Regions from separate parts of the Homo sapiens genome. Here region 2 is linked to region 1. Evidence: fine-mapped QTL for protein levels in blood plasma. Region 1 holds a variant in brackets. A gene starts in the other region. All regions are shown on their reverse strands. Region 1 holds the start of LOC112268247 (a long non-coding RNA gene). Region 2 holds the start of SPESP1 (sperm equatorial segment protein 1).

Evidence for each region. PIP is the chance, under the fine-mapping model, that this variant and not a neighbour inherited with it causes the effect. The UK Biobank Pharma Proteomics Project read protein levels with antibody pairs (Olink). The fine-mapping took linkage between variants from a reference panel, not from the people measured, so its PIPs are less certain.
Region 2: SPESP1 starts here. The variant in region 1 is fine-mapped to the plasma level of the SPESP1 protein (UK Biobank, PIP above 0.99).

What each region holds. Positions count from the first base shown.
Region 1 is chr19:20,964,450-20,980,931 of GRCh38, reverse strand. LOC112268247 (a long non-coding RNA gene) reads right to left here and starts at 8,774. Exons shown (of 2, transcript XR_002958424.1): 1 at 8,415-8,774. The variant A/G (reference allele first, on the strand shown) is at 8,180.
Region 2 is chr15:68,923,474-68,939,955 of GRCh38, reverse strand. SPESP1 (sperm equatorial segment protein 1) reads right to left here and starts at 9,431. Exons shown (of 2, transcript NM_145658.4): 1 at 9,239-9,431. The coding sequence starts at 9,302. It overlaps SPESP1-NOX5 (SPESP1-NOX5 readthrough), which reads right to left and starts at 9,431. Exons shown (of 17, transcript NR_033672.2): 1 at 9,239-9,431. RefSeq lists a silencer at 12,555-12,755.

The DNA of each region.
Region 1 (16,482 bases):
AATGGGAAACTGAAGACCAAGATCTTCTCTACCTCTTCATCCAAGGCCCCACTTGCCAGCTCCATTTTCAACAAATCTTTTTTACAGATAGAAGCTTAGATGAGGAGGAGAAACTATTTGAAAAAAGACAAGGTGCTCTCTTCCCATTCCAGTAGGTAATGCACTCAAATGCCAGATAAGGCCTTGGGCTGTTCATATTAAGATCAGAAAGAGTGGTGGAATGAGGGATAGTAAGCTGTGTGTCTTTGGTAGGGTTTTATTTTGAGCTAGGGAATGAGAAATGGCTTATATCCCTGAGATGGCTTTGAGAATTGTAGTAATGATCCCTTGGAACCGTATTCTTCTCATTAACTCTTGATGCTTGCTGAACAGCCTTAGTTAAGAAAATGAACAACAAATGTAAGTCAGGAATAGACTATGGGACTCTGGATCTAGAGAGATTTGAGTCACCTAAACTTCCTTTCTGACTAGGACCAGACCACAATCCAAATAAGAAAGAGAATTACAGAAAACTAAGCTCAAAACCAGAAACAGCACCGCTAGATCAGGTAGGATTTGAATCAAGGTGAGAAGAGATAGGATATAGATGAACACAGTCTCCCCTGGAAAAACATTGAGAGCTTTTTTAAATGCAGAGTTTTACAGATCCTGGACTCTGGAGAACAGAGAACTGAGTTTTGGTGACAATCTTGGCTTCAGTGCATCCACAATGGACTAGGGCTTCTAAGGTGTTCAGTTCGAAGCACTCACCTGCACTTTGTTTTTTTGTTTGTTTTGTTTGTTTTTGTTTTTGTTTTTTTTGGAGACAGGGTCTCACTCTTTCACTGAGGCTGGAGTGCGGAGGCATGATCTCGCCTCACTGCAACCTCTGCCTCCCGGGTTCAAGTGAGTCTCCTGCCTCAGCCTCCTGAGTTGCTGGGATTAAAGGCATGTGCCACCAGGCCTGGCTAATTTTTGTATTTTTAGTAGAGACAGGGTTTCCCTATGTTGGCCAGGCTGGTCTCGAACTCTTGATCTCGTGATCCACCCACCTTGGCCTCCTAAAGTGCTGGGATTACAGGCGTGAGTCACTGCACCTGGCTGCTTTCTTTTATTTTACATGTTTCAATCGATTTTATTTTATTGTAGAAAATTTTAAATTTGATATATGTTTTGGGTTTTTTTTAACCATATTCTTGTTTTATTTTTCTGGTAAAATACATATTTTTATTGTAATAAAATGAGAAATGTAAAGATTTCTTTTGGCTGTAATGTAAGAGTTAAGGGAAGTAGAAGCAGGAGAGTGATAGAATTTTTATTCACTTTTAATGACAAAATATTAATAATAGTTCTCGTCAGAACAATCAGTCAAGAACAAGAAATAAAAGGCATCCAAATTACGGGAAAAAAAGTCAAACTATCTCTTTCTATGGATTATCTAATTTGATACCTAAAAACACCTAATAACTTTACTAAAGAGCTCCTGGAACTTATCAGCAAGTTCAGTAGTGTTTCAGAATACCAAGTCAATACGCAAAAGTCATTTTTATTCACCAATATTATTGAAGCTGAGGGCCAAATCAAGAACTCAATCCCATTTAACTTGCCACAAAAAAATACCTAAGAATGCATATAACCCAGGAGGTGAACAATTATCACAAAGAGAACTACAAAATACTGCTAAGAGAAATCATAGATGACATAAACAAATGGAAGTACATTATATTCACATGGATTAAAAGAATCAATATTAAAATGACCCCATTGGCCAAATTAATCTACAGATTCAATGCTATCTCTATCAAACTGCCAATAAAACTTTTCAGAGAATTAAAAAAAAAACTATTCTAAAATTTATATAAAACAATAAAGAGCATAAATACCCAAAACAATCTTAAGCAAAAAGAGCAAAGCCAGAGACAGCACTCTACCCAAATTTAAACTATACTATATGGCTACAGGAACCAAAGAAGCATATTACTGGTATAAAAGCAGACAGAGACCAGTGGAACAGAATACAAAACTCAGAAATAAAGCTACACACCTACAGCCATATAATTTTTGACAACATTGACAAAAATAAGCAATGGAAATAAGACTGTCTATTTAATAAATGGTGCTGGGATAACCAGCTAACCGTATGCGGAAAAAAATACTAGATAATACTGAACCCCTACAATTTGCCATATACAAAAATTAACACAAGATGAATTAAGGATTTAAATTTAAGACATCAAACTATAAAAATCCTACAAAAAAACCTACTAAATATCTTTTTTGACATTGGCCTTGGCAAAGAATTTTTGACTAAGTCTCCAAAAGTAAGCAAGAAAAACAAAAAGTGACAATTTCCCAACTTCCTAACTATTCTAAAGAGCTTCTGCACAGCAAAAGAAACTATCAACAGAGTAAACAGACAACCTACAGAATGAGAGTAAATGTTTGCAAACTATGCATTTGACAAGTCTAATTTCCAGAACCTATAAAAAAATTAATTAAAGAAGAATAAATAACCCCACAAAGATGAGCAAAAGACATAAACTGATACTTCTCAAAAGAAAACTTACAAGAAGCCAACAAACATAAAAATATGCTCCATATTCCTAAACATAATTTTGCTTTCAATGAATAGTTTTAGATCCCTGCTGTCTAGAAAATTTGGGGAATTTGTTAGTATAAAAAAAGAATTTTTTTGGCTGGGCGCGGTGGTGCATGCTTGTAATCCCAGCACTTTGGGAGGCCGTGGCAGGTGGTTCACCTGACGTCAGGAGTTTGAGACCAGCCTGACCAACATGGTGAAACCCCATCTCTACTAAAAATACAAAATTAGCGAGGCGTGGTGGGACATGCCTATAATCCCAGCTACTCAGGAGGCTAAGACAGGAGAATCGCTTGAACCTGGGAGGCAGAGGTTGCAGTGAGCCAAAATCATGGCACTGCACTTCAATCTGGGCAACAAGAGCAAAACTGTCTCAAAAAAAAAAAAAAAAGTAGTGCAGTGGTCTTGGCTGGTCTTGAACCCTTGACCTCATGATCTACCCACCTTGGCCTCCCAAAGTGCTGGGATTACAGGCATGAGCCACCGTGCCCCGCCCAATATGTTTTATTTTGAGATTAACCTTTTTTTCTTGAATGATTGACATTCTTCACTCTAGTTTAGTGGTAATTATAGAAATTTAGTAGCATAAAATGTTGCTCATATTTTAAAATCCAATTTTCACCACCAGCTTTTGATTCAGTAGTACTACTGGGTAGTGAGCTAAGGACCCACAAATTTAAAATACTTTCTAAATATTCTAAAGATTCTGTCGAAGAAAAGGTATTTTGATATTAACTTTACATTATCTGTAATATTCTTTTTCTTTAGTAAGCACAGTACTAAGTACTAGTCTGGTAATTGGAGAATCCAGCAAAACTCATGTTTCCTTTTTCTAATAAGACAGATCTTGCTGTGTCTAATCTGGGCCTGATCAACTCTCTGAAGCAAAGGAAAGAATCTTGGAATTTAGAAAGACAAGAGACCATAGCCAGCACCTAGGTAGGCGGGAGTGAAAGAAGATGACACAGCTGAGGTCCAAAGGTGAAGAAGAAAGCCAGACCATAAAATGTGGTTTAGGAAGGTCTGCTGCAATAGAAATAGTTTCTAAAATGCCTGATTTCTTTTCTCATACCCAAACAGTGGGGCAGCTTCTGTCCCATGGTCTTAAATCCCCCAAGAATTCTACTTTAATTTAATCTTCCTTCAAGCTTATACTTAGAGCTGAAGTCCATCTTATGGTTTATAAGAGGTTGAATAATCTGACAGGTCTTCCATTGCTATTGGGGGACATGAGACTATTTGTCTTTTAGAGAAACTCTGTATGAAACTATTTTAAATCCTTTCTACATCATTGCTGAAATGTGTGAAAGCAGTAGTGATATTGAAATTTGGTTTCAAAATCGCAAGAACACCAGATAAAGATGTGAGTTTTCTACTTTATGACTTTCTATTCTGTGATGGTTTCAGATGTGTTTCTAGAGATATTTGTACTCAGTAACTTTATCAGAACACTAAGTACCTCTGTAAATGTAAGAAAATCTATTTTTTTTTTTTAATTTTCAGGTTTTTTTTTGTTTTGTTTTGTTTTTGAGATGGAGTTTAGCTCTTGTTGCCCAGCCTGGAGTGCAATGGCATGATCTTGGCTCACTACAACCCCTGCCTCCCGGGTTCAAGCGATTCTCCTGCCTCAGCCTCCCAAGTAGCTGGCATTATAGGCACCTGCCACCACGCCCAGCTAAGTTTGTATTTTTAGTAGAGATGAGGTTTCACCATGATGGTCAGGCTGTTCTTGAACTCCTGACCTTAGGTGATCAATCCACCTCGACCTCCCTAAGTGCTGGGATTACAGGCGTGAGCCACTGCACCTGGCCCCGATTTTCAGTTTTTTTAATATAAATTGAGATAGGTAATTTAAACACTACATGACCAAATTTCTTATGGTAATGTAGCTTAATGTATTTATTGCATATATAATATATGTACATATATTATATATATGTACACATGTATATATTATATATACATATATTATATATGTACACATGTATATATTGTATATATGTACACATGTATATATTATATATGTACACATGTATATATTATATATATGTACACATGTATATATTATATATGTGTATATATATATATTTTAAAAGGAGTATCACTCTGTTGCCAGGCTGGAGTGCAGTGGCATGATCTCGGCTCACTGCAACCTCCCAGGTTCGAGTGATTCACCTGCCTCAGCCTTCTGAGTAGCTGGGATTACAGGCACATACCACCACACCCAGCTTATTTTTGTATTTCTAATAGAGACGTGGTTTCACCATGTTGGCCAGGATGGTCTCGATCTCTTGACCTTGTGATCTGCCTGCCTTGGGCTCCCAAAATGCTGGGATTACAGGCATGAGCCACCGCACCCAGGCTACCGTGTATATTTTTACAATATACTGTGTCATTGGGAAGCTTAGAAAATTGCTGAAGGCCAGGTGCCATGGCTCATGTCTGTAATCCCAGCACTTTGGGAGGCTAGGGTGAAAAAAACACTTGAGCCCACGAGATTGAGACCAGCCTGGGTAACACAGCAAGACTTTGTTTCTATAAAGAATTACCAAAAAATTAATTTATTTGTATGTACATTTAAAAGGAGGAGATTGATTTTTCTTCTGGAGAGTTATAATTACATTCAAAGCATACTTTTTGCATTAAAAAATTAAAATTCTTGAAAAGCAAACATTGATGCAATTCAACTCTTTTTTATTTTTTTGAGACAGAGCCTCACTCTGTCACCCAGGCTGGAGTGCAGTGGCACGATCTTGGCTCACTGCAACCTCTGCAGCCCAGCTTCAGGCGATTCACCTGCCTCAGCTTCTCAAGTAGCTGGGATTAAAGGCACCTTCCACTGCGCCTGGCTAATTTTTGCAGTTTTTAGTAGAGATGGGGTTTCACCATCTTGGCAAGGCTGGTCTTGAACTCCTGACCTCATGATCCACCTGCCTCAGCCTCCCAAAATACTGGGATTACAGGCGTGAGCCACCATGCCCGGCTGCAATTCAACTCTTAGATCACTTGTTATGCCTTCATTCTTAGTGTGTATACAAAAGCACATGGTTAGTTTTTGCTTCATCAGACCTATAAGAGGCACATCTCTATTAGACAAGCATCATTCACATAGTTTTTCATAGACACTGAAATGTAAGACATATCAAGAGATTCTAAGTGGGGAAGTGCTTTGTGGTTGATTAACAACAGCATGTGATACATGGGGTAGGTTTTTAGAGTAAGATTCCATGCATTATAGTAAGGGAGAAACATTTTAGATCTTCAATTCAAGTTGTTTTTCCAATTGCTTATTAAAATAATAAGATACAGTGGATTTAAAAAAAAATTTAGATTCTGTGTGAACTTAATTTGTTTTAATTAAGCATAATTGTTTTTGTTTCTACTATTGTGCATTGAACAAAGTATTATTTTTTTACCAGTGTTAACCTATCCAACCTAACTGAAGCTTGTAGGTAACAGATGATAACAATACACTATTGGTTAACATAGTTGAATAACATTTTTAGGGATCCCTTTTTTCAATAACTTTAAACATCAAACAGTTTAAAGAATATTGTTTCTATTGGTAATATTTTTATTCTTTTTGTAACTACAGGGCCATTATAATGGTAATAATGAAGATTATATAAAAGTACAATTTAAAGCCATGTATTTCTGAATATTGAATGAGTATTTACAAAATTTTATTCCACTTTTTTTTTTGCACATGTCACCTTTCTGACTTGCAAAATATATGCAGACTGATAGTCTTGTTTTACAAGGATAAAATATACAAATATATTCCTCTAAGGATAAATCTTAGAAGTAAAGGAGTTACGGAGTAAGTAATTGTGTTTGTGTGAGTTTGGGTGTATACCTATTTTGCAAAGAAAAGAAAAATATTGAAATAAAACATAATTTCCAAAGTGTTGATAATTTACTAAAAAGGCAAAAATGTCAAAAATTCTGAAAGCGAGTCTATTTTCTTTGCTTTATGTCGAGCTCACTTCTCTGAGATTTTATTGGTCCTCCATAGGATTCTCCCCATGCAAATCCCCCCGCCTTTTTTTTTTTTTTGAGATGGAGTCTCACCGTGTCACCAGGCCGGAGTGCAGTGGCATGATCTTGGCTCACCGCAGTCTCTGCCTCCCGGCTTCAAGTGATTCTCCTGCCTCAAGCTCCACAATAGCTGGGACTACAGGCGAGCGCCGCCATGCCCAGCTACGTTTTGTGTTTTTAGTAGAGACAGGGTTTCACAATGTTGGCCAGGATGGTCTCGATCTCTTGACTTCATGATCCGCCCACCTTAGCCTCCCAAAGTGCTGGGATTATAGGCGTGAGCCACCGCGCCCGGCCAATTGCTTTTTTTTCTTTAATATTAAAGGGAGTCTGGAGAAATAACTACAACAATCCCAGAACTGGCAAAGGGGCAAATGCTGGAAAACTCCAGGGTGGGAGAATGCCCATCACAGGGCCAAAGATCTGAGCAGATGACTCAAAAAAGAGAAAATCTTAATAGGTCTTAAACAACTGAAAGGTGACTCAAACGTGTCAGTTTAAAAACTGAAAGTGAAAGGGACAATGAGATTTTATTTGCCATATAGACACAAACTGACAACAAAAATTAAAAGAATGTAATATGCAGGAGAGCTTAGATACAGAGCAGCAGGTGCATCAGAGAATGCCAGCGCCGATGGACCTGCTACAGCCCTTTTGGAAAGTCATCTGGCTGTAACTGTGAACAGTTTACATAGACATCATTTAACCCAGTAATATATTTTCTGAGGATCTATCTTCAGATAATTAGTAAATGTTATGGGATAATTTGTTATTTTCTCAATTCCCAGGATAAATACTTTGTATCCTTCAATCCAATCAAGTTGACATTCAGTATTAACCATCACACCTGTGGACTCCATCCATGGATGAGTGTCACAATTCCAACTGTCAACTTTTCTGGGTGTGAGATTCAGAACCTCAACAGTGGGTTGTGTGCATGTGTGAGGCTGATAATTCTAACATTTGGTTGAGTATGCATACAAGAATCACAATTTTTCCTGTGTGCTGGGTTCTTTTATGACACTCTATGTACCAACCAAGTGCTTTATACAGCATGCATGAGAGCTGCAATCTTCCCTGAGACCTGCATGATGGTATAGACACATGATCTTACCTGTGGCCTTAAGCCCAACAGAAGAGTCAAAATGTTTCTTTTTTTTTTTTCTTTTTCAAGACAGAGTCTCGCTTTATTACCCAGGCTGGAGTGCGATGGTGCGATTTCAGGTCACTGCAAACTCCGCCTTCCGGGTTCAAGAGATTCTTATGCCTCAGTCTCCCAAGTAACAGGGACTACAGGTGTGTGCCACCACGCCTGGCTAATTTTTGTATTTTTAGTAGAGATAGGGTTTCATCATATTGGCCAGGCTTGTCTCAAACTCATGACCTCGTAATCAGCCCACCTCATCCTCCCAAAGTGTTGGGATTACAGGCATGAGCCACCGCACCTGGCCAAAAATGTTTCTTATTGGCTGGGTCCAGGTATGAGACTCATGATCATGCCTGTGGGCTTGGTCCAAAAATGAATGACCATCCCACCTGTGTCAAGATTCACATAGAAGAGTC[A/G]CAATTCCAACTGTCCAGTATGTTTGGCTATAAAATTGGGGACCTCACTAGTGAGCTGTGTCCATGTGTAAGAGTAACAATCCTAACTTTCAACTGGGAGTGCATGAGAGCCACAGTCTCACTTGCGTGATGGGCACTGTTATGACACTCTACCACCTGAGAGTTTTACGTGATATGCTTGAGAGTCACAAACCTCTCTGTGACTTTTGTACAAGTATGAGATCCATGACCTTACCTATTTCCTTAAGGCTAGCTATGAGAGTCAGAATGTCTCCTCTTCACTGGGTCCAGGTATGAGAGTCATCATTGCCTGTGAGCTGGGTCCAGCTAAATCTTACAATTCCCCCTGTGAGCCTGGCTCAGGCAGAAGAGCTACATCACCTGAAGGCTGGGCCCATGTATATATCGCAATCTCTCTTATGGTCGAGGCCCAGCAGAAGAGTCACATCACCTAGGTGTGGGGCCCAGGTATATTAAAGTCCCCTGTTTGGCAGGTCCCAAGCAAGAGAGCCACATCACCTAGGTACTGGGCCCAGGTATGTGTCACAATCCCTCCTGTTGCTTGGGCTCATGTTGGAGATTCACATCACCTAGGTTCTGGAATTAGCTCTACATCACAATCCCACCTATGGCCTCAGCCCAGGCAGAAGAGTTACATAGCCTAGGTACCAGGTATGTGTCACAATCCCCACTATGGGCAGGTCCCAGGTAAGAGAGACACATTGTCTAGGTGCTTAGCCCTGGTATATTGTCACAATCTCTTTTGTTGGCTTGGCCCAGGTTAGATGTACACCTCACATAGGTGTTGAGCCCAGGTATGTGTCACAATACTCCCTGTGGGGTGGGCTCAGGCTAAAGAGTCACATCATCTAAGTGCTGGGCCCAGGTATATGTCACAATGCCCCTTGTGACTTTGGCCAGGCATGAGAGTCAGAACACATAGGTGCTTGGTTCAACTATATGTCACTATCCCATTTGTGGCCTTGACCTAGGTGAGAGAGTCGCATGACCTATGGTCTGGGCCCAGGTATATGTCACAATGTTCTCTGTGGATTGGGCCCATGCAGGACAGCCACATCACCTTAATTCCTGAGCCCAGGTATATGTCAGTCCCCCTGAGAACTTGACCTAAAAAAGGCTCAAATCACCTCAGTACTCGGCCCAGTATTATGTAATCCCACTTGTGGCTTTAGCCTAGGCAGCGGAGTCACATATCTTAGGTGCTGTGGTAAGAAATCTGTCAAAATCTTTTCTTGTGTTCTAGGTCCAGGCAAAGTGTAACATCACCTAGGTGCTGGACCCAGGTACATGCCACAATCTACCCTCTGGGTGGGACCCAGGAGGAAGAGCAACACAACTCAGAAGATGGGTTCAGGTATATGTCACAATTACCTGGAGGCAGGGCCCAGGCAGGAAAGTCACATTACCTAGGTGCTGGAAGCAGGTGTGTTACAATCCTCCCTTTGGACAGGGACCAGGAAGGAGAGCTACATCACCTAGGTGATGGAAACAGGTGTAGGCCCCAATTTCAAATGTGGGCAGGGATCAAGCAGAAAAGTCACATCCACAGGTGTGTCACAATACTCTCTTTGGGTAAAATCCAAGCAAGACACTCACATCACTTGGATGCCGAGCCCACCAATGTGTCACAATCTCCCCTGTGGGCAGAGCACAGACAGGAGACTCATATCACCTTGGTTCTGGGCCCACTGATATGTCACAATCCCACATGTGGGCAGAGACAGGGCAAGAGAGCCACATAACCTGGATGCTGGGCCAGGAATATGTCACAATCCTTTTTGTGGGCAAAGCTAAGGCAAAATAATTATACCACCTTGGTTCTGGGCCCAGAAATATGTTACAATTTCCTCTGTGGGCAGGGCCCAGGAAGAAGTGTCCCATCACCTGGGTGCTTGGCCCAGCAATAAGTTACAATCTTCTTTGAGGGTAGGACCAAGGGAGAAAAGGAGACACATCACATAGGTGTCGGCCCCTGTAATATGTCACAATCCCTACTGTGGGCAGAGCCCTGGCAGGAGAGGCATATCACCTGAGTGCTGAGCCCAGCGATATGTTACAATATCTCCTACGGGCAAGACCCAGGCAAGAGATTTACATCACCTGTGTGCTAGATCCAGTGATATATCACCATGCACCCTGAGGACAAGGCCCAGAAAAAGAGTCACATTACTGGGTGTTTGGCCCGGCAATATACCGTAATGCCCTGTGTGGGCAGGGCCCAGGCAGCAGAGCTATATCACCTGGGTGCTGGGCTCAGCGATGTGTCACAATCTCACCTGTGAGCAGAGCCCAGATAGGACAGGAGAGTCACATCACCTAGCTATGTCCAGCATTATAGCAAAATCCCCCATTATGACAGGGCCCAGGCAGGAGAGTCACATCACCTGAGAGCTTGGGCCCAGGTATATCTCACAATCCTATTTAGGAGCCAGACCCAGGCAGGAGAAGCACCTCACTCAGGTACTAGGCAAAGATATATCTCACAACCACATCTGTGGAAAGGTCCAGAGAAGAGCTTAACAATTCCACACATGTCCTGGCTTCAGGTATGAGAGTCAATGCCTGTGAGTTTGGTCCAAGTACATGAGTCAGTCTTAAGGGTTAGCTGGATTTGTGCATAAGATCCCCAATCCTGCCTGCAGGGGACTGTGTTTCAGTAAAGGAGTCACAGCCTCACCAGTGTTCTGAATCCTGGTCTGAGAGTCATTATCCAACTGTGGAAAACATTCACGTAGGAGAGTCACAATTTCAACTTTTGACTGAATCCAGGTGTGAGATTAAGAACTTCGACAGCGGGGTGGCTTTATGATAGAGGGTGACAATCCTTACTGTTGGCTGGGTGTGCATATGAGAGTCACAATCGCTTCTGTGTGCTGGGCCATGTTATGAAACTCTGTGTAACCCAAGGGCTTTATACAGTGTGCAAGACAGTTGCTATCTGCTCTGGAAATTTGTGCTGGTATGGAGCCAGGATCTTACTCATTGTCCTAGGTACAAGAGTCAACATCTCTCCTATTGGTTGGGTTCAGGTATGAAAGTCATCATTGTCCCTGTGTGCTGTGTCCAGAAATGAGTCAGCGTCACACCTGTGGCCAGGCCTACGTATGACAGTCACAATTCCAACTGTGTACTCCTGTGAGATCCAGGACCTCACCAGTGGGCTGTGTCCATGTTTGAGGGTGACAATTCTGGCAGCTGAGTGTGAATATGAGAGTCATAATCTCATCTGAGTGCTGTGTTTTTGTTTTTGTTTTTTGAGACGGACTCTTGCTCTGTCACCCAGGCTGGAGTGCAATGGCGCAACCTCGGCTCACTGCAACCTCTGCCTCCCGGGTTCAAGCAATTCTCCTGCCTCAACTTCCCGAGTAGCTGGGATTACAGTCATGCACCACCACACCTGGCTAATTTTTGTATTTTTAGTAGAGACGGGGTTTCACCATGTTGGCCAGGCTGGTCTCAAACTCCTGACTTCAGGTGATCTGCCCGCCTCAGCCTCCCAAAGTGCTGGGATTACAGGTGTGAGCCACTGTGCCCTGCTCCTATGTTCTGACACTCTCTGTACCACTCAAGGGCTTTATATGATATGTGTGAGTGTCATAATCCTCTGTTATCTTCATAAAAGTAAGAGACCCAGGACCTTACCAGTTGCCCTAAATGTATCTATGAGAATCAAAATCTCTCCTATTGGCTGGGTACAAGAATGAGTTATTTTCACAGCTGTGAGTTGAGCCCAGGTATGTCGCACTCTCACCTGTGGGAAGGAACAAGGCAAAAGAGTCACATCACCTAGGTGCTGGGCCCAGTGTTATGTCACAATTCTTCCGGTAGGCAGGGCCCAGGCAGGAGAGGTGAGTTACCTCACCTAGGTGATGGAAGCAGTGATATAATTCCTTCTGTGGGCCAGGCCCAGGCAGGAGTGTCACCTCACCTGTGTACTGTGCCCAGAAATATGTCACAATCTTTTGTGCATAAGGTCCCCCCAAAATAAGTGAAATGACCTAGATTACAGGCCCATAGATCTGTCACAAAGCCTTCTGTGGGCAGAGCCTAGGCAGGAAAGTGATATATCACTAGATGCAGCATGTAGGTGATGTGACTCTCCTTCCTGAACTCTATTCCCCAGGGGACATTGTGACACATCACTGGGCACAGCACACAGGTGATGTGACTTTTTTCCTGGGCCCTGATCTCAGGGGGCATTGTGACATATTGCCTTGCCCGGTACCCAGGGCAGGTATTAAGCAGGAGAGGAGACTAACACCACCTAGATGCTGGGCTCAGGCACATGTCACAATCCCATCTGTGAACAAACCCAGGCAGAAGAAGAGTAACATCTGGGTGCTGGGCCCAGTGATATGTCACAATGCAACCTGTGGTCAGGGGCCAGGCAAAAGAGGAGTCACATTACCTAGGTGCTAGGCCCAGTGATGTGTCACAGTCACCAATTGGGCAGGTCCTAGACAGGAGAGGAGAGTCACATCGCCTAGGTGCTGAGTCCAGTAATGTGTCATAGTCCCAGAGCAGGGAGGGGGCAGGAGAGGAGATTCACATCACCTAGAAGATTGGCCCAGATAGATGTCACAATTTCTCCTTTGGGCAGTGCTAAAGCAAGAAGGTTACATTACCTGGGTGCTGAGCCCAGCAATATTTTACAATCCTTAGGGCAGGGCTCAGGCAGAGAGGAGATTCACATCACATGGTTGATGGGCCTGGCGATAGGCCACCATGCCCTGTGTAGGCAGTGCACAGGCAGGAGAGTCACATTATCTGAGTGCTGGGTCGAGGAATATGTCACAATTTTCTCTGTAGGCAGGGCCCAGGCAGGAGAGGAGAGCCACATCACCTAGGTGCTGGGTTCAATGATATGTCACAATTCCCTTGAGGGCAGGGCTCAGGCAGGAGAGTCACATAACCTAGGTGCTTGGCCTGAGTATATGTCACAATCACATTTGTGGGCTTGGCCCAGGCAGGAGAGTCAAATCATTCAGATTCTAGGCAAAAATATCTGTCACAATTACACCCGCAGAAAGGTCCAGGGATGACATTTACAATCCTGCACATATCCCGGGTTATGTATGAGAGCCAGTATCTCCTGTGGGTTGGGTCCAAGAATGCAAAGCAGTCTGAATGCTGGACTGAATCCCTGCATGAGAGCCCCAATTCCACCTGAGGTCCAAGAGTCATTATTCCACCTGTGGACCACATCCATGTGTGAGAGTCACAATTCCAACCTTTGACTCACTCTTGGTGTGACATTCAAAACCTCCACAGTGGTCTGTGTCCATCTGGAAGGGTGACAGTCCTTACAGTCAGCTGGGTGTGCATAGGAGAGTCACAGTCTCTTCAGCATGGTTGGCCCTGTTGACACTTTTGGTGCCACTTGAGGAATTTATATGATATGTGTGAATGTTGTTATTCTCTTTGACTTTGGTACAAGTAGGAGACCCAGGACCTTATCCATTGTTGTAAGCCAACCTATGAGAGTCAAAATCTCTTCTCTTGGCTGTGTCCAGGTATATGAGTCATTGTAGCATCTGTATACCTATGTAGGCCCAGGTATATTTAATAATCCCACTTATGGGCAGAGATAATGCAGGAGAGTCACATCACCTAGGTTCTGGGCCCAGTGATATATTCAGGATAAATGAATTACAATTTTAAAAATAAATATAGTAAAATAACAGGCCGGATGTGGTGGCTTGTGCCTGTAATCCCAACACTTTGGGAGGCCGAGGTGGGCAGGTAACCTGAGGTCGGGAGTTTGAGACCAGCCTGACCAACATGGAGAAACCCCATCTCTACTAAAAATACAAAATTAGCCGGGTGTGGTGGTGCATGCCTGTAATCTCAGCTACTCAGGAGGCTGAGGCAGGAGAATCACTTGAACCTGGGAAGTGGAGGTTGTGGTGAGCCAAGATCGCACCATTGCACTCCAGCCTGTGCAACAAGAGTGAAACTCTGTCTCTAAATAAATAAATAAATAAAACAAAATAAAATAAAATACTGTCATTACTTCTAGTTGACGTAACACAAGAATTCAGATGTTGTTGCTGTAGAAGCTCAATATGTCATGGCTGACTCCACTTTACTTCCTGTCTTTCTATTTTAGACAATCAAAGTAGCACAAGCAAAGCCAGAAATGCTCCACCCTGATTGCAAACACACCAGTGCCCTTCTAGTGAGAATATATGTGTGAGGATATTAACTTGAAATTCTTGGCATCTTTTGTTGAAGTACAGACTTCTATATGACAAATAATAAAGACAAGAATTTAACATTGCAATAGAATCAGAAAGATATTCTAAAAGTACCTTCTAATCCATTATTATTATTATTATTATTTCACCAGAATGGTTGTGATAGAGTGGTTGCAGCAGTGTGGTCATAAATAACCCATACCGTGTACTTTGTCATTTTTGGTCTATGACCATAAGACTTTTATGCTTAAAAATAAATGTTTTCTTGCCAGGTGGAGTGGCTCACACCTGTAATTCCAGAACTTTGGGAGTCCAAGGCAGACAGATCACCTGAGGTCAGGAGTTTGAGACCAGCCTGGCCAACATGGCAAAACCCCATCCCTACTAAAAATACAAAAATTAACTGAGCATGGTGGCAGGTGCCTGTAATCCCAGCTACTCAGAGGGCTGAGGCAGAAGAATTGCTCGAACCTGGGAGGCAGAGGTTGCAGTGAGCTGAGTTCACGCCACTGGACTCAAGCCTGGGTGACAGAGCTAGACTCCACAAAAAAGAAAAAAAATTATTTTCCTAATTCAGGAATTTAACATGATTTTCACAGCCTCACATTTTCAAAAATGGTTTATTCTAAAAGAGAAATGTGATTAAACCATTTTTTCCCCAAAAAGAGTAGAGTGACAAATTATAATCTAGTGTACAGTTAATAAATACAATATAAAGATGTGGCCATTTATTTTAGCTGCATACTTGGGGATAAGACACTTTTTGGGCTATAAACCAAGGGTTTTCAGAGACGTTAGGTCATAAAACGTGGGGCGACCAGGTATAAAAACATTCACCTCTGTACCCAAAACGGACATAATTCTGTGTCTTTCACTCCTAATTTCAACTATTAACCCAGAACTGGAGAAATATAACATGCCATTATACCACAAAGCATTTTATTATTTTTATTTTAGATTCATGAGGGTACATGGGCAGATTTGTAACATAAGTATACTGCCTGATGTCGAAGTTTGGGCACTTAATAATTCCATTGTCCAAGTAGTGTACCTCATACCTGATAAGTAGTTTTTCAATGCTGGTCTTGGCAGTTTTTTTAAGAACTCCCAGCATTTATTGTTTCCATGTTCACCCAATGTTTAGCACCCAATTATAAGTGAGAACATGTAGTATCTGAAATACGTATATACCGTGCAATACTAAGAAACCACAGAAAAAGATGTTCTTTGCAGCAACATGGATGCAGCAGAAGGCCTTTATTCTTTTTTTTTTTTTTTTGACCTTTGAAGTTTTTATTGGCCTCTTGCTCCCCAAAGAGTACCCTGCTTCTGCTGGCTTAATGTCTCAATTTGGTGTCATTGGTCTCAGACAGCACTTTGCCATCCATTCTCTGGCGGGTGGTGGTCTTTTTGATGGTTTGCATGGAGTTGCTGCTGTCCAGGGCATCACCTAGATTGAAGTCCTTGCCATCTTCCAGCAGGCGGCGGTAGGTGGTGATCTCAGCCTCCTGCTTGACTTTGATGTTCAGCGGGGCCTTGTACTCCTGGGCCTGCTTGACTTTGATGTTGAGCAGGGCCTTGTACTCCTGGGCCTGGACCTGTGCCAACTCTGACTACAGGTGCAGCAGGATCCCATTGAGGTGCTCCATCTGCAGGGCATAGTGGGCTTCCACCTCCCTCAGGCTGTCCTCCAAGCTGGCAGAAGGCCTTTATTCTAAGCAAATTAACAAAGAACATGAATCTAAGATTCATGGGTACCTACTTTAATTCTGTCTTTTTTTATGGTGAATAGTGCTGCAGTAAACATGTGAGTGCCAGTGTCTTTTTGGTAAAATAATTTTTTCTTTGGGTATATACCCAGTAATTCGATTAATGGGCCAAATAGCTATTCTATTTTTAGCTATTTGAGAAATCTTCAAACTGTGTTCTACAGGGGCTGAATTAATTTGCATTTCCACCAACAGTGTATATAGATTCCCTTTTCTCCACAACCTCAACATGTTTTTATTTTTGTTGCATTAACTTCTAAGGTGTTAGTTATAATTTTTTTTCTAGAGCCCTGTGTCTAGAAGAGTACTTTCTGCA
Region 2 (16,482 bases), not on the chromosome of region 1:
TTTCAACGCTTTTAGAAAGACATTGCCATTAGATTATAGGCTGCTAAACACTTGCTTTTCAACCATTTAGCTTGCCTCTTCTCAAAGTAGTAAATAAGATACCCAGGTGGATATTAGGTGAGTTAGAGTGCCAAAGGACAGGAAAAGGAGATACTTACTACTAGCTGATTCCTTAACAAACTGAAATATTTATTATCCCCTTCTATTGTTACTCAGGCAACACCCAAAAGCCTGTTCTTGGCTGCCTAGCAACAGAGTGCACTACCTCCTACCTCGATTTTCCTCTGTTCTTCATGTACCCTTGGCTCCATATTTTTCTATTGTTAATTCCATCCTCTCTCCACACACCTTCTACCTCCTGCTTTTGTCCCCTAAAACATCTCCCTATTTCATGTTGACCTTCTCAGTTCTACTAATCAGGTCTGCTCTTGCAAATCAATTTGATCTTTATAAAAATGTTTGTAGGTCAAGGTAGTAAAAGATAGTGGAGCCTCAACTGTCCCTACAGATGGCTGTGGCCACTGTGAAAACCTGTTTTTCTCCATTCTTCAGGAGGTGCTAGAAAGCTGAACAAAATTCAAATTCTTACAAGGAACAGACAATCTTGCTAGAAGTTGTGTTATTATACTTGGATATTCATAGTCTACACTGGTATACTTTATAATATCCCATCTATTTTTACCAGTAAGTGATTAAAGCAAACATGGCAATGTCCTAGAACATGGCTCTGGCCCAGGTAAGAATCTTCAGCTTGGGAAACCATGATGCTGCTCTCCAGTTCCTCTTATAAGCAGGATGGCTAACTGCTAAGCAGGCTTGAGATTTTGCTGGAATCTCAGATATGGGGCCTGAAGGTGAGCCTGAGGTTGCCTGCACTTCTCTTCTTGAAATAGTACAGGAAGAACTGTCACACAACAGAAATGGTAAGAAAGTAAACAAAATGGTACTAAATAACTGTAGGAACAAAAGTGGTAGGAAATCCAAAGGGGAAATGGAAGATAATGATTTAAAAGATCCTAATAGCTTCCACTGATTGAATGATCACTATGTGCCAGGCACTATACCCAGAGCTTTGACTGTGAGAAGTACTTTGTCAAAGAAGAAAAGGAAGAGACTTAGAAAGGATAAGCAATTTGCTTAAGATTATATTCAACTTATAAGTAAGGATGAGATTTGAACACAGGCTGCCTTACTTCAAAGCAGGTGCTTGTAACAACCACACAATGTTGTCATAAAGAAATGACACAAGGATGCTGGCAAAGCTGTATTAGTGTTGTGATAAAATTATTCTGCAGGGATACTACTCTGTTTTAAAATACATGTGAACATTAAATAAAATCAAATAAATAAATATAGTATCCGAAATTGTGCTGTCAACTGGACCAAAATATTTTAAACTACATGTAAATATTAAAATTAAATTAAATTAAATATGACCAAATTTTGTTCTATCATCAAATGGACCAAAATGCATCCCTTTCGCATATTAAGATGTATCTAGTAATATTGAAAATAATCCAAATACAGTATTTTCTTACTACAAAGTACAAGTAACTGACAATCAATGACTTACAAAAAAATACATCCCGTTCACACAGAAATAAAAGGCAAGTTAATTACTTTTGAGTTTATTATGAGGAAAATAATAAAATCATGATTTAAAATGAGCAATGAAATATAAAATTTCAGGCTGCGCTTGGTGGCCCACGCCTGTAATCTCAGCACTTTGGGTGGGTCAACTAAGGTCAGGAGTTCGAGACCAGCCTGGCCAACATGGTGAAATCTCATCTCTACTAAAAATACAAAAATTAACTGGGCATGGTGACATGCACCTGTAGTCCCAGCTACTCTCGAGGCTGAGGCAGGAGAATCGCTTGAACCCAGGAGGCAGAGGTTGCAGTAAGCCAAGGTTGTGCCATTGCACTCCAGCCTGGGGGACAAGAGTGAAACTCCATTTCAAAAAAATAAAATAAAATAATAGATAAATAAATAAAATTTAAAACTTCACTCAATAAATAATACATGTGAAATATATTTCCTTTTCATAGAATGACCAATTAAAGGAGGAAGAGAATAACATAAAAGCCAATTTGCATGAAAACTTGCTAAAATTCATTGTTCATAAAAGATATGCAAATTAAAAACAATTTTTGTTTTGCCAGTCAAGTAGGCAAATATTTTTAAATGATAAAACCTAGGACTGGCATGTGTATATGTTACTTCCTTAGTAAAATAAGTTCCCTCCTACCCAGAGAGGAGAACAATAAAACCCATTTCCCATATCCCCTATACCCCAGCCCCTGGAGAACACACACCACCGCCTGTTGGTGGGTGGGGGGTGAGGGGAGGGAACTTAAAGGATGGGCCAATAGATGCAGCAAACCACCATGGCACACGTATGCCTATGTAAGAAACTGCACGTTCTACACATGGATCCTGTTTTTTTTTTAGAAGAAATAAAGAAAAAAAATAATAAGTTCCATCCTTACTCCCCTTTTGATCCCTAGATCCTTCTTTAGTCTCTCTCTAGCATACTGATCTTTTCTTTATAGAATTTAGACAGTTCTAACTGTATTTGTTAGTTTAATATTTGTTAACTGTTACACTTAGTAAGCTCTTTGAGAGCTGTGACACATCTAATTTGTTCATTATATACTCTGTTTTACCCAGTGCCTAGAACCATACTAGACAGTCAAAAAGTATGAATAACTGAATGAATGAACAGAATGCTGGAAGGTATGTAAATTAATTGCACTTCTAGTAATTTATCTTACTAAGATAATCACAGGTAAAACATTTCTACAGAAGAATACAGAGGAAGAAAACTAGACTTCATGTTATGTTTAAAAATAAATCTGTTAGTCTAAAAACTATTGTGTGGGGAGCAGTTTCTGGCTAATTGTCCAATAATTATTACAGAGAAAATTTTAAATGAGTAATAAGAATGTTCTTTTATTTTAGGCAAAGTAAGCAGTTTTTTATAATAAAAGACACAGCTTACTACGTCTTTCTAAATTTCTAAGTGTGAAGTTTATATAAAATAACATCATAAACATCATGGTGAAATAGCTCCATTTCTCAGAGAGCCCCCATACTTCTTGTAACTGCCCCTTACTAAATAGCCTAATGTAAGTTTAGATCACATAAACTTATGTTCTACTAATTACCTTTCATTGAATTTTATCAATCTCTAAAGTAATACTGCATTGACATAATTTTAATGTAAGTAAATCACAATCTTAATATTAAAATACCTCCATAATTTACCTTTTATTTATCTTAAAGTATGAAATTCAATGGTTTTCAGTATGTCCAGAGTGGTGCAATCACCACCACAATCTAAGTTTAAAACAGTTTTGTCATCCCACAGTAAAATCCATTTCCCATATCCCTTATCCCCCAGACCCTGGACAACCACTAATCTACTTTCTGTAGCTACGCATTTGCCTATGCTAGACATTTCATATAAATGGACTCATACGATATGTGTCCTTTTGTGAGTGGCTTCTTATACTTAGCGTAATGTCTTCAAGATCATCTATGTTGTAGCATGTATCGGTACTTCATTGATTTTTATGGCCAAATAATATTTCATTGTGTAGATACACATACATTTCTACTTTGCCCTTGGCCAGTAGCCTTGATATGGCAACTGCTGATTGCACCCAAAATTTAATCACCAATTATGGATGCTCATTTTGTTAAAGATTTGAATATAACTAGGATTTTTATTACAATGATAGTGAAAACAAAATGGCTTTATCCATAAAGAACTCATGTATATAAAACTTAAACATATACCCAAGCATCCATCACTTATAGATGGTCCACACACTCTGGCTGAATGTCCATAACTTTGGAGAACAAATTGCTTGTATTTTCTATACATACCATGAAGTGGACTCATAAAGAATAAACTTCCCTTATTCTACAGCAGTTAAGTACTAAAGTAAGAATTAATAACTGAAAGCTGTAATAATGCAAGAACTACCAGTTAAAATATCCAACACCTTCAAATTAAAATGAACTTTTATGAAGGTTAAAATTTTAAAACGAACTGAGCTGGAGTACTGTATTTCCAACTCAAAGTAGTAATAATTGTGCTTAATTACTGAGGTGTACTCAAGGAATGGTCATAAAAGGAAATATTAAATCTTCTTATTCATCCAGCAATTTTCTTATAATTTATTATTACACAAATCTTAATTTTTGCTGACAGGTAAATAAACAAGTAATTATGTTCATATTAATCAAGTGTTCCAGTTAAAGAAATGTAACTTTATGGCTTTACACTTCCTGCTATTCATGTTCTTGGGTAGTGTCTTCTGACATTGGATATGGGCTTGCCCCATGTGACTTGTCTTGGCCTATAGGACATTAGCAAGTCTGATACAGTGTAGGCTTCGTAAGAGCATCCATGTTGGGGCTTATAAATCTCCTTCTTGGAAGCAAGCTGCCATGGTGTAAAGAAACTTGGGCTAGAGTACTGAAAGATGAGAAGTCATGTAAAGACCCTGGAGGATGAGAGGCCATCTGGGATGTTCCTATCCATTTGAACTTCCAGCTGAATGCAGCTGCATGAGTGACCTCAGCTATACCATATGAAGCAGAGCTGCCCAGCTGAGTCTAGTGAACCCATAGAATCATGAAAAATGATAAATTTGGGGAGCAGTCATTTTTGCCACAATACACAACCAAAATAGCCTTATTAAATTATGTTACAATTCTAGTGCGGATAAAGAGTTAAAAATCAAGATGCATCCTATGAGTAATGTTATAATTGAAACCAAAATAAACTCATTATTTTAAATCTTTCTCTTCTAGTTCTGTTCACTAAAATGACAAAAATAACAATATTTCCCCACTGCAGTAGTCTAGTATGTATCGCAGGCACTTTGGTCTCTCATACCATGTTCTCCATCCCCTTGGAAAGACAGTTAATTCCATTCAGAGTGAGAAAGATAGAGTGGGAAAGACACAAAGTGGGCTTGGAACAATCAGTTAACATCAGAAAACAAGAAGTCTTTAAAAATATATGGGATCCTATCAAAAGAACAAGAGAAGACAGCTTACAATGGCTCCAAATGGTCAAGGTATGAATATTTGAGGCTCGGAAAAAACTATACTTAGGTTAAATAAATTGTGTGTTTTTAAAATGCTTCAAATATATAGTGATACTAAAAAAAAAAGAAAATATTTTCTTTTCAAATAACTAGTATTTTATTTGGAGATAAAAAATGTTGCTTAAGTTTAATTTCACATATATTATCAAGAGATTAAAGTATATCCATTTAAGGGATAATATGATCAACAGAACAGAAAGACAGGACTTTTTTCCCCCATAAAACATCAATGGACAGGCTAATGAAACTTCCTGCTACTCCCCCACAGAATACTCTCTTGACACTTGCCTATTGGATGACATGCTCCTCATTATCTCAAACATTAACAAAGTGTGTCATGACAGTTTATTCACAGGTTTGAGAGACCTTTTAAATGCTGTAGCCTTGGGCACTAGCTAAGTGAACTTGCAGCACCAGAACTCAGTGAACTTTACCTTTAGAATGTATTTGAAATAAAAGAATATTCTTTTCCTCTTAATTTATTTGGTGATAGATTCAAACAATTGTTGCTGGTTGCTGCCTTATTGTTTCCCTTACCTTCTGTGGTTCATTAGGACAAAATCCTTCCTAAACACAATGACAGAAGCCAAAGACTGATACATTGAGCCTTCTTATAATACCAATCTAGAAATAAGAGCTTTTGTAATCCTAGACTAACCCTATTTTTCCTAGTCTATACCAAGAGATGATCTAGAGGAAATAATTTATTTGGGAGATACCCCAAAATTAATATTTTAATTTTATTTATACTTATTATGCAAAGTTTGAATCATTTAAAAATTAACATATATTAATATTAAATTAATATTAACACACTTTAATTTTAATTAGTTTGCACTGCCAGCCCATGAATATTTGATGACTTAAAATTTAAAAAGGCCAATTATATAATTTTAATAGTAGTTGATATTATTTAAATATGTAACTATTATGTTAATATTACTTTAGAAGTTACTGTGCTTTTTTTTTTTTTTGAGACAAGGTCTCACTCTGTCAGCCAGGCTGGAATGCAGTGGCGCCATCTCAGCTCACTGCAACCTCTACCTCCTGGGCTCAGGTGATCCTCCCACCTCAGCCTCCCGAATAGCTGGGACTACAGGCCTGCCCCACCACATCTGGCTAATTTTTGTATTTTTTGTAAAGACGGGGTTTCGCCATGTTGCCCAGCCTGGTCTTGAATTTCTGGGCTCAGGTGATCTGCCCGCCTCAGCCTCCCAAAGTGCTGGGATTACAGGTGTAAGACACCGTGCCCGGCCTGTGCATTTTTTTTTTTTTAAAGCAAAAAGAATTCTCATTAAAAAGTAAAGTAAGTTGCACAGTGCAAATACATTAAAGAGGGAATACATTAAATACTTTCCCATTCAAAAATTTAAAAATGGCAAAGTATTTAAAACTATGGAAAAATCAGGTAGAGGAAACTGAATGTATAAAAATTTTATATAGTAAAACGTTGTTTCTCCAGCACCATCAGGATGTGTGTGTGTGTATGTAAAGGAGTGCCGACTTCTGTATACCCAAGCTGCATTTATGTCTAACTGAATTTAGATTAAACAAATACTAGCTAAGCTTGGATTGGGCCTGTTAGAAAGGTATAGGCAGATACAAGAAGTACTGAGGTTTTCAATAAATGCAATTACTTAATACACCCGTGATGTTTGCGTAATAACCTCAAAACTGTCTAGTAGTCTAGAAAAAATGTGTCAAAGCTGCACTTTTCATTATAAAAACCTATGTACCTTATCTTTTGCATCTCGCCAACAATTGTTTGAATAGTGGCCATATAAAAGAATGCATAGCTGATTTACATCAAGCTCAATGATATACGCATTTTGGTATACTTATTTTAAAAACAAAATTAAAATTAGAGAAAAAGTAGAGAGACAGATACAGAGAAAGCAGCCATGTACCACTGCCTGCTCTATATATTCCTTAATCCACTTCTGTAGAAGAAAGGTAATTACATATTCCAAGACATCTTCTATGATTACAACCTGTATATAGTTTCCTTATGTCTTATAACATCTATATATTCAACACAAAATCACTCCTTTTTTCTGGGAAGCGTCTTTTCATTTCCTACAACCCTTTTCTTTCTTCCCAAGAAAGATTAGGGAATAGGGTGCTAAGAAAGACAACAGGCTGGCTGGGCACAGTGGCTCAAGCCTGTAATCCCAGCACTTTGCAAGGCCGAGGCGGATGGATCATTTGAGGTCAGGAGCTCGAGACCAGCCTGGCCAACATGGTGAAACCCCGTCTCTACTAGAAATACAAAAATTAGCCAGGCGGTAGTGGCGTGCGCCTATAATCCCAGCTACTCAGGAGGCTGAGGTGGGAGAATCCCTCGAGCCTGGGAGGCAGAGGTTGCGGTGAGCCGAGATCGGGCCACTGCACTCTAGTCTGAGCTAGAGAGTGAGACCCTGTCTCAGGCAAAAAAAAAAGGGGGGGAAAAGGGAAGGGGAGGGGGAGGGGAAAATTATGGTGTTAGGCAAGAGACTGCACTGAGTTAAGTGGGTGTCCAGGGACTCCTACCTAGCAGTCCCAGAGTGTACTGTGTGACAGTGTTAAAGTCACTTCAGTTAAAGTCTCCATATATGTTAGTCACTTGTGACTTGCTGATCTACAACTACCAAAATGCAATAACTGGTGTTAGTAATAATGATCATCAGACATCAAGAAAAGATAGTAGCATCTTCATTATGTTCTGGTCCTCTATGTCAAGGAAGAAAAATTTTACAAAACTTTTTATTAAAAACAGCTACAAATCATAAATGCTAGTATTTAAAGAGCTAACTTTAGTTACCTAGAACTTCATCTAGAACTTTTCCCATTACTATTCATAATTTAGATTGTGTTGTATTTTCAGTTTTTAAATTTGATTTTTAACTAAGATCGTTTAGCAATTCTGAAAAATAGATTTGCATAATCAGCATGCACGATAGCGCTTTTTTTACACCTGTTAAATTGTATTTATTGATTTAAGTGAAACCAAACTCCAACATTACTAAATGCCACAATGAACTACAGTTAGACTAAATGGGGAAGCCTCACCTACCTGACTTAAATACTAAGTGCCTTAAGGTGCCCACATGATATTGTTAATATAGTAAAGTCTTAGCACCCCTGAATTTGACCTTATTGGTTTTCAGCTTTCGGGGAGGGACAAAAATTGCTCCTTGGCAGGTCTTAAGTTATAATCCTGCTTAACTAAGGCTTTGAATGCCGTGTGCGCAAGCATGCTCTCTGGGAGCGCATCCTCAGGTGAGTGTCCCAGACCGCGACCCACAATCCACATGCTCTCCAAATTTTACCGTACGGGTCAACCTTTTTTTCTGTACAGGGCCAGAGAGTAAATACTTCAGTCTTTGCAGACCAGACTGTGTGGCAACCACTTAACCCCGTTGTTCTAACGTGGGAAAGCAGCCATGGGCAATACGTAAAGGAATGAGCGTGGTGGTGTGCCAGTAAAACTTTATTCACGAACAATGAAATGTGAGCGTCATGCTTTTCCACAAGTCATGAAAGAGTACATTTCATATTTACTTTGAAAATGCAAAAATAGAACATCACACACCAGGGCCTGCCGTGGGGTGGGGGGAGGGGGGAGGGATAGCATTAGGAGATATACCTAATGTAAATGACAAGTTATGGGTGCAGCACACCAATATGGCACATGGATACATATGTAACAAACCTGCACGCTGTGCACATGTACCCTAGAACTTAAAGTATAATAATTAAAAAAAAAGGAAGAAAATGTAAAAATCATTCCTAGCTGGCCAGCAGCTGTCACACGACCCCTGCACGGTCACACGCCCAATGGCTGGGGAAGGATCGGGTGGGCAGAGGAAGGCCTCCGGTGAGGTGAGGGGGTTCCACCCGCGCCCACGGCCCGCAGGCGCTTCCCGTCTCATCTGGGCCGCGCCGCCTCAGTTGCTGCGTTCCCTGACCAGGAGAGGAGAGGGACACCCCTCGGCGTCGAGGCCAGGACCCCGGACAGTGGGGGAGGGAGGCATGTAGGACCAGGGAGAAGGAAGGGCCAGGCTTCGAGGTCGCGGAGCTCGGGAAGTTCCCCCAGGGTGTCCCCGGTCCGCTGCCTCCTCAGGCCCGTCACTCACTCGGATAAGCCGGCACAGACGAAGGCCATAGCAAAAGCGCAACTAGAAGGACTAAGGGCTTCATAGGCGTCGTCCGTAGCACTCTGCCATGCGACCGGAACGTCCTGGGGCCACCAGGCTGGGAACCTCAAGGCCGAAAGGGAAGGTGTCAGCGGAGTACCGTCCTGCCTCAGGCCCTGGGACACCCAGCAACGGTTGTCCCCAGCGCGCAAGCGCAGCGGCATGGGGGAGGGGAGAGCGAGCGGCCAAGGCCCGCCCCTCCTGGGACCGCGTGCAGGGGGCGGGGGATCGCGCGCGCCCCGCCCCGCCCCTTCCTAGTGCGCATGCTCGCTCCGCCTTCGTAGGTCCGCGCCTGGTGTGGGCTGGGAACGCCTCGACGCCCGGCTACTGCGTGCGGGGTGCTGCCTCGGGGCGTGCGGGGCTCGGCCCATCCTGCGCGGTAGGGATACCGCCGTGGTTTAAACGCGGTCCCTGTGAGGAAGGAACTGTAATGGGAGAGGCAGATAACCTGGCAATTACCACAGCGTGAAAGGGGGCTGTAGTGGGGGAAGCGCTAGGTACTGTTGTGCACAGTGGAAACCCACCCCCGGAAGCGGGTGGGGAGCTTGGCTAAGTGGAGGACAGCTTGGAGCACCCCAAGAACTGAGCATAGTTCCGGCGAGTTGCATTGTGGGGCTTGGGAGGGCAGTTGTTGGAGGACAGGGAGGAGAGGTAGGCAAGGGCATTAAAAACGCCCTAAGGGGCTTGGGTGTTTTTGTTTTTCAAAAGATCACATTCCATTTCTTTGACCTTCTTAAAAAGATAGGGGTAGGGATGAGGGAGAGTACGACTATGAAAGGATAGCATGAGGTTGTTTTGGGGACTAATAGATGGCAGTGGCCACAAGAATCTATACATGTGTTAAAATTCACAGAAGGCCGGGCACGGTGGCTCACTCCTGTAATCCCAGCACTTTGGGAGGCCGAGGTGGGCGGACCACCTGAGGTCAGGAGTTCGAGACCAGCCTGACCAACATAGTGAAACTTCGTGGCTACTAAAAATACAAAATTAGCCAGGCGTGGGTGGTGGCACACGCCTGTAGTCCCAGCTACTTGGGAGACTGAGGCAGGAGAATCACTTGAACCCGGGAAGCAGAGGTTGCAGTGAGCCGAGATCGTGCCACTGCACTCCAGCCTGGGCGACAGAGCAAGACTCCACCTCAAAAAAATAAATAAAAATAAAAATTCGCAGAACTGCACATCCCAAAGAATCTGTTTTTCTGTATGGTTATTTTTAAAAATTCACGTACACTCATCTCTGCCTCAGGAAGCAAGGGGCTTGGATTTTAGTCTGAGGCACCAGTACTAGAGTACTGCTAGGTTTTGAGCTGGGAACGGTTGTGATTAGATTTGTATTCCAGAAAACTCACTCTTCCTGTAGCATGAAGAATGGACTGGAGGGAAGCAAGACTAGAGGCGCCGGCGGAAACTGAGACTGCGCACGGCGCTTGCGGGCCAGCCCGAGTTCCGGGTGGGCGTGGGCTCGGCGGGCTCGGTGGGCCCGGCACTCAGCGCGGCCGGCCGTCCCCGCTGGCCACGGGCAGTTGGGGGGAGCTTAGCACCTGGGCCAGGAGCTGCTGTGCTCGATTTCTCGCCAGGCCTTAGCTGCCTCCCCGCAGGGCAGGGCTCGGGACCTGCAGCCTGCCATGCCTGAGCCTCCCTGAGGAGCGCCGCTCCCTGCTCCACGGCGCCCAGTCCCATCGACCGCCCAAGGGCTGAGGAGTGCGGGCGCAGGGCCGGGGACTGGCAGGCAGCTCCACCTGCGCCTGGGTGTGGGATCCACTGGGTGAAGCCAGCTGGGCTCCTGAGTCTGGTGGGGACTTGGAGAACCTTTATGTCTAGCTAAGGGATTGTGAATGCACCAATGGGCACTCTGTGTCTAGCTCAAGGTTTGTAAATGCACCAATCAGCACCCCGTGTCTAGCTAATCTAGTGGGGACTTGGAGAACTTTTGTGTCTAGCTCAGGGATTGTAAATGCACCAATCAGCACCCTGTCAAAACGGACCAATCAGCTCTCTGTAAAGTGAACCAATCAGCAGGATGTGGGTGGGGCCAGATAAGGGAATAAAAGCAGGCTGCCCGAGCCAGCAGTAGTAACCCTATGGAGTCTCTTTCTGTCGTGTGGAAGGTTTGTTCTTTCGCTTTTTGCAATAACTCTTGCTGCTGTTTACTCTGGGCCCACACTGCCTTTATAAGCTGTAACACTCGCTGCGAAGGTCTGCCGCTTCACTCCTGAAGCCAGTGAGACCACGAACCCACCGGGATGAATGAACAACTCAGATGGGCCACCATAAGAGCTGTAACACTCACCATGAGGGTCTACAGCTTCACTCCTGGTCCAGCTAGACCACGAATCCACCAGAAGGAAGAAACTCCAAACACATCCGAACATCAGAAGGAACAAATTCCGGACATGCTGCCTTTAAGAACTGTGACACTCACCACGAGGATCCACGGCTTCATTCTTTAAGTTAGACCAAGAACCCACCAATTCCGGACACATGTTGAGGAACCAATGTCTCCAGCCAACAGCCAGTAAGGACCTGAGGCCTGACAACAATCAGGTGAGTGAACTTGGTAATAGATTCTCCCCAGGTGAGCCTGGAGTTGACCACAGCCCGGCTGACATCTTGATTGTAGCTGCCTGAGAAACCCAGAGATGGAGGCACCCAGCTAAGCCACGCTTAGATTCCTGACTCACAGAAACTGTAAGACAGTAAGTGCTTGTTAAATGGAGGAGGAGAAAGCATTTGCGTAAGCAATAGCTACATACAAGGGTCTCTGTTGATTTGTTCCTTGAAAGAGACCATGCTTGGAAAGGCACCTGCAGTTGGGTACACTACTTAATTGAGTTAATAATTGTCAGTCATTCTTCCAGGTCCATCTGTTTTCATTACCAGTCAAGCTGGAAGGCAGGTATAAATTAAGATAATTGATTCAGATATTTTAGGGTGACACTATAGCTAGTCAACAAGGGATTGTTATAACTTGTGCATTACTATTTTGATTGGGGGTTGGAGAGTGTAATAAAGCTCTGTGGATTCTTCATAGTCTTTTCTATCTTGCTCACCCTTGTTCTAAAGGTTAGGAAACCAATGTGAAGATTCTGCCTTATGTCCTTTAAATGTACACTCAGGAATTGGGGAAAAAACACTGGAAGGGTTTAGGGTTCCATCGAACTTACTGTAAGGTGGACTTGGGTTAAAATTCCTTTAATTACTTCACCCCTGTAAACCCCACTCTAACCAGTGAACTACTGTGGCATACTGCGATTTTCCTTTTTTTTCAGTGCATATTTATCCCTAGATGATCACTGGTCCCTTTGGAGAAGGCTAGGAGTTAAGAATCACAGCACATACTTATCTCATTGTATTACTACTGAATTCGTCAAGGGTTTCCTGCTTTCCCTTCACTTAGGAGACTGGATTTGTGAAACACACTGCAGTTTGGGGATTGAATGAGGAACTGCAAGTGAGAGGTTCAAGTAGGATGTCTTTTAGGCCCAGAGTTGGAGTCGTTTTTCCCTTGTTTGGTTATAAAAACCCCAATAAGACTTTAGCAGTTTTCATCTTGTTAACCATTAAAAAGGAAACGGTGAAATAGCCAAGGTATATCCTAATTGTGGAATTCCAGTTTAAAAAAAAAAATGTTGTAGCTCTGTACTCCATGGTCTATGTGCTAACATATAAAATTCTCTAAAATATGGTGTTGAGTAAAAAAGTTCAGAAAAACACATATATCCACTTATGCAAAATTACACCAGTTACATATTTCCATGAATTCATCTGAAATCATTCTGGAAGGAAACACAGTAAGCTGATAATAGTGCTTACTTCCAGAAAGAGAAATGAGATTGGAGGAGAACAGGGGATTTTGAAGGGAGAATTTTGCTTTTTACTTTTTCTTATCCCTTGAATTTTTTGAAGCAAGATTACTCATGTAATTAAAAATAGAAACAGTAACTTTTTACAAAATCTAGTGAAGAAAGGAGGGCTAGTGGTAGAAATGTCTTATTATGCCTCATGTTTTCCTTTACTGACTTCACTGAAATATTTTTGAAGTGGCTAATTCACTACCCAGAGAAAAGTAGCCTGCATTTCTGCTTCACCTCTGGATTCTGTAGACTGTTTTGATAGGTAATCAAACAGTATCATTTACTGTTATGACTTTTTTTCAGGGATGTATTTTATCTCCCCTTTATAGTTGTTTTTATGCTGTCTATTTTACACAACACCTTGCTGGTGCTCAATAAAGACTTAATAAATAGCAACACATGCTCTTCCAACCTAAAGGAAAAGAATCCTTCCCCACTTTCCCCCACCCTCTTCCCCTAGAGCTGTCAAAATTCTGTTTCAAGGCTCAAATGCCACATCTGCTGGGAATCTCCCCTCCATCATCCCTCCAGTTAGAATGTATCATATCTTCCCTATCCCATATTTTCATAATGCTGTATTGTAGCCATTATTTCACCATAAATTCTGTATTTTATGTTTTTACAAGCCAGGCTTCTCTAGACCAAGGTCTTTGAGGGAAGGAATCTGATCTGAGTTATCCCTGCATCACAACCTCCTAAAACCCAGCCAAAGTAGTGTGCATTCATCAGGTGCTCAATAAATGCATATTTGAGTTCAATTGAAATCAAAAGACTGGGAATTTTTATAGAATCTTAAAAAGATCGCTGGGAATCTTGTAGAATTTTTACAGACCCTTAAAAAGAGCTAACAATACTAACCCAGCTACAGTGACAACTTCCAGCACAATCTTCAATCTCCAGAAGAAACTCCTCATCTCGAAGTGTCTTAACTCTATTATTTAAGTCCAGGTGAAACGAATAACAGGTGGTCTCATCTGTTCTTCTCTCTGTATATCATGCAAGTAATTCTAGACAATAAATTCCTGATTGTGAAACCACTATGTCAAAATAAATGTACCAGTTTGCATATCCATCAATAGTATAGTAACTAATACTGAGTGGCATCATCTTTGAAGACCAGTCACGTCAAGTGCCATATCTTGTTTTAACCTGTTTGACTTTGTTTTTCAGTGTAGCAAAGTGTTCTGCCTACTCTCCCTGTTCCCACCTTGGATTTTCCCTGTATTCCTTCTAGTATACATCTAACCCCACACTTACTGTTTTTTATTCTTTCTCCTGTTAACCCAAGTGATGAGTTAATAGGCTATGGGTTAGCCAGAGCTATATTTGTCTCCCTAGAAGAAGTATATTTGGGAAGTCCCTCCCCTCTTATCTTAGGTCACTTCCTTAATCCTTTCTTACCCCGCCCACCCCACCCCCCTCCCCGCCCCGTCCCGCCCCGCCCCATTCTCCTGGGACCAATGCACTGAGCAGCTAGGACCACAGCTCTAGCTTAATTAACACCAATGCAGTTTTTTACATCTCAGATCTCAAACATCATGTCTTAACAGCTCTTGGCCCCATGTGTGGAAAAATAGTTGAAATTAAATACTATTAAATGAATGAATACCCCAATCCCTCCATGCATTTATCCATCCATCCAACTATTCATACATCCACTCTGCCCTTGTAAAAATCACTGTAACATTATCAGCATGAGAGCACCGGCAGCTTTGTCAGAGAAGGACTTCAGCCACCCGGGGGCAGTAGAGCCTCACCAGTGGCTGGGATGGCACTTGTGGTTACATCAGAGCATCTCTCCAGCTGTGACTCTAGAAACTGAATTTTGATTTTGCTGCAGTAGATCATGTTTTGCTATTGTGTGTTTTGCTTTACTCTCATGCACTTGGAACGTACCAAATAGCATGTAATAATGTTTAAGTGATTTAATAGTAATAGCCTTTGTTTTCCAAAGAAGATTTTCTTCAGTGCCGGCTACGTAGAAGAATGTTACATCCAGTCTTTTCTCTGACAAAGCTAGTCCACATGCAGTTACATTATAGATAGTCCTTGGCTGAAATCAATTCATGAAATGAGACCTGGGAGCACACAGAAGAAGCAGGCTGACCCTTGGGAATGCCCACTGTCTGCACGATCTGCCCCACCTGATGTAGGCAATATACACTTTTTAAATTTTTTAAAAATTGTATTTTTTTAACTTTTATTTTATATTCGGGGGCACATGTGCAGGTTTGTTACATAGGTAAACTCGTGTCATGGGAGTTTGTTGTATACATTATTTTATCACCCAGATACTAAGCCTGACATCTGGGCCCTGAATAGGCTCTGTGGGATGTTTTTGATTAATAAATGGATGGCAGAGGAATCCTGGAGTGTAGATGGTGATCGCTGGGAAGGGGTTACAAGTGTGTGAACCTCACAGGATTTTTAGCTCTGTCCAGGAAAACCCTCTTTCCTGTTGACTCTACCAAAGTCAGTGTGCATCCCTGTGAAAGTCTGAAAGTATAGCTGGGGACTTACAGAGATGCTAGGACAATGATTTATTGTCCTGTGGACTCATCCAACTAGGAGGGTCCTGGAATTCTAAAGGAATACTCAATACAAATTTAATTTGTATTCACTTAGCTTTTGTAAAATTATGTCCTCACTAAATAGAAAGATTCTTAAGGCAGAGACCATGTCTTTTTGTGTTTGTACCCCAGGGACTTTTCACAGTGCCTGGCAGAGTTTGGACACTACGTATGTGCTGAATAATATGTGAAATTTTCTGATGGGTGCCACGAAGTCAAATAGAAGATGACTTTGGGTAAGGAGAACCTTAATCTCTGAATCTCATTGTGCTTATCCCTAAAATAAGAACCCTTTGTATTTGAATTATGCTTAAGTCTAAACCTTACATATAGATCAAATATATTTCCTTTTACACTCACAAGCATACTGGGAGGGTAGGCTAAACAAGTGCTGTATGAGCATCCCAGTTCCACAGGTGAGAAAACTGGGACTCAGACTAAAAGACCTAGCCAGGTCACTCAGCCACATCCTGATGAGCTGAGACTACAAGACCCAGGTCTTTTGACTCTCAGTACAGCACACTTTGACTATACCTTTGTGGATTACAGGGGATAATTGGACTAGTCAGTCTCTTGGAGACTTTCTTCTAGCTTCAGAAATGGTTCTCAGGCCACACTGAGAATTAGTTCAGAAACTTTTTAAACATAACCAATAATCAAGACTGTGTGGTATTGGCAGAGGAGTAGACACATGTATCAATGGAACAGAATAGAAAAATCCAGAAATAGACTACACAAATATGTCCAAGTGATTTTTCACA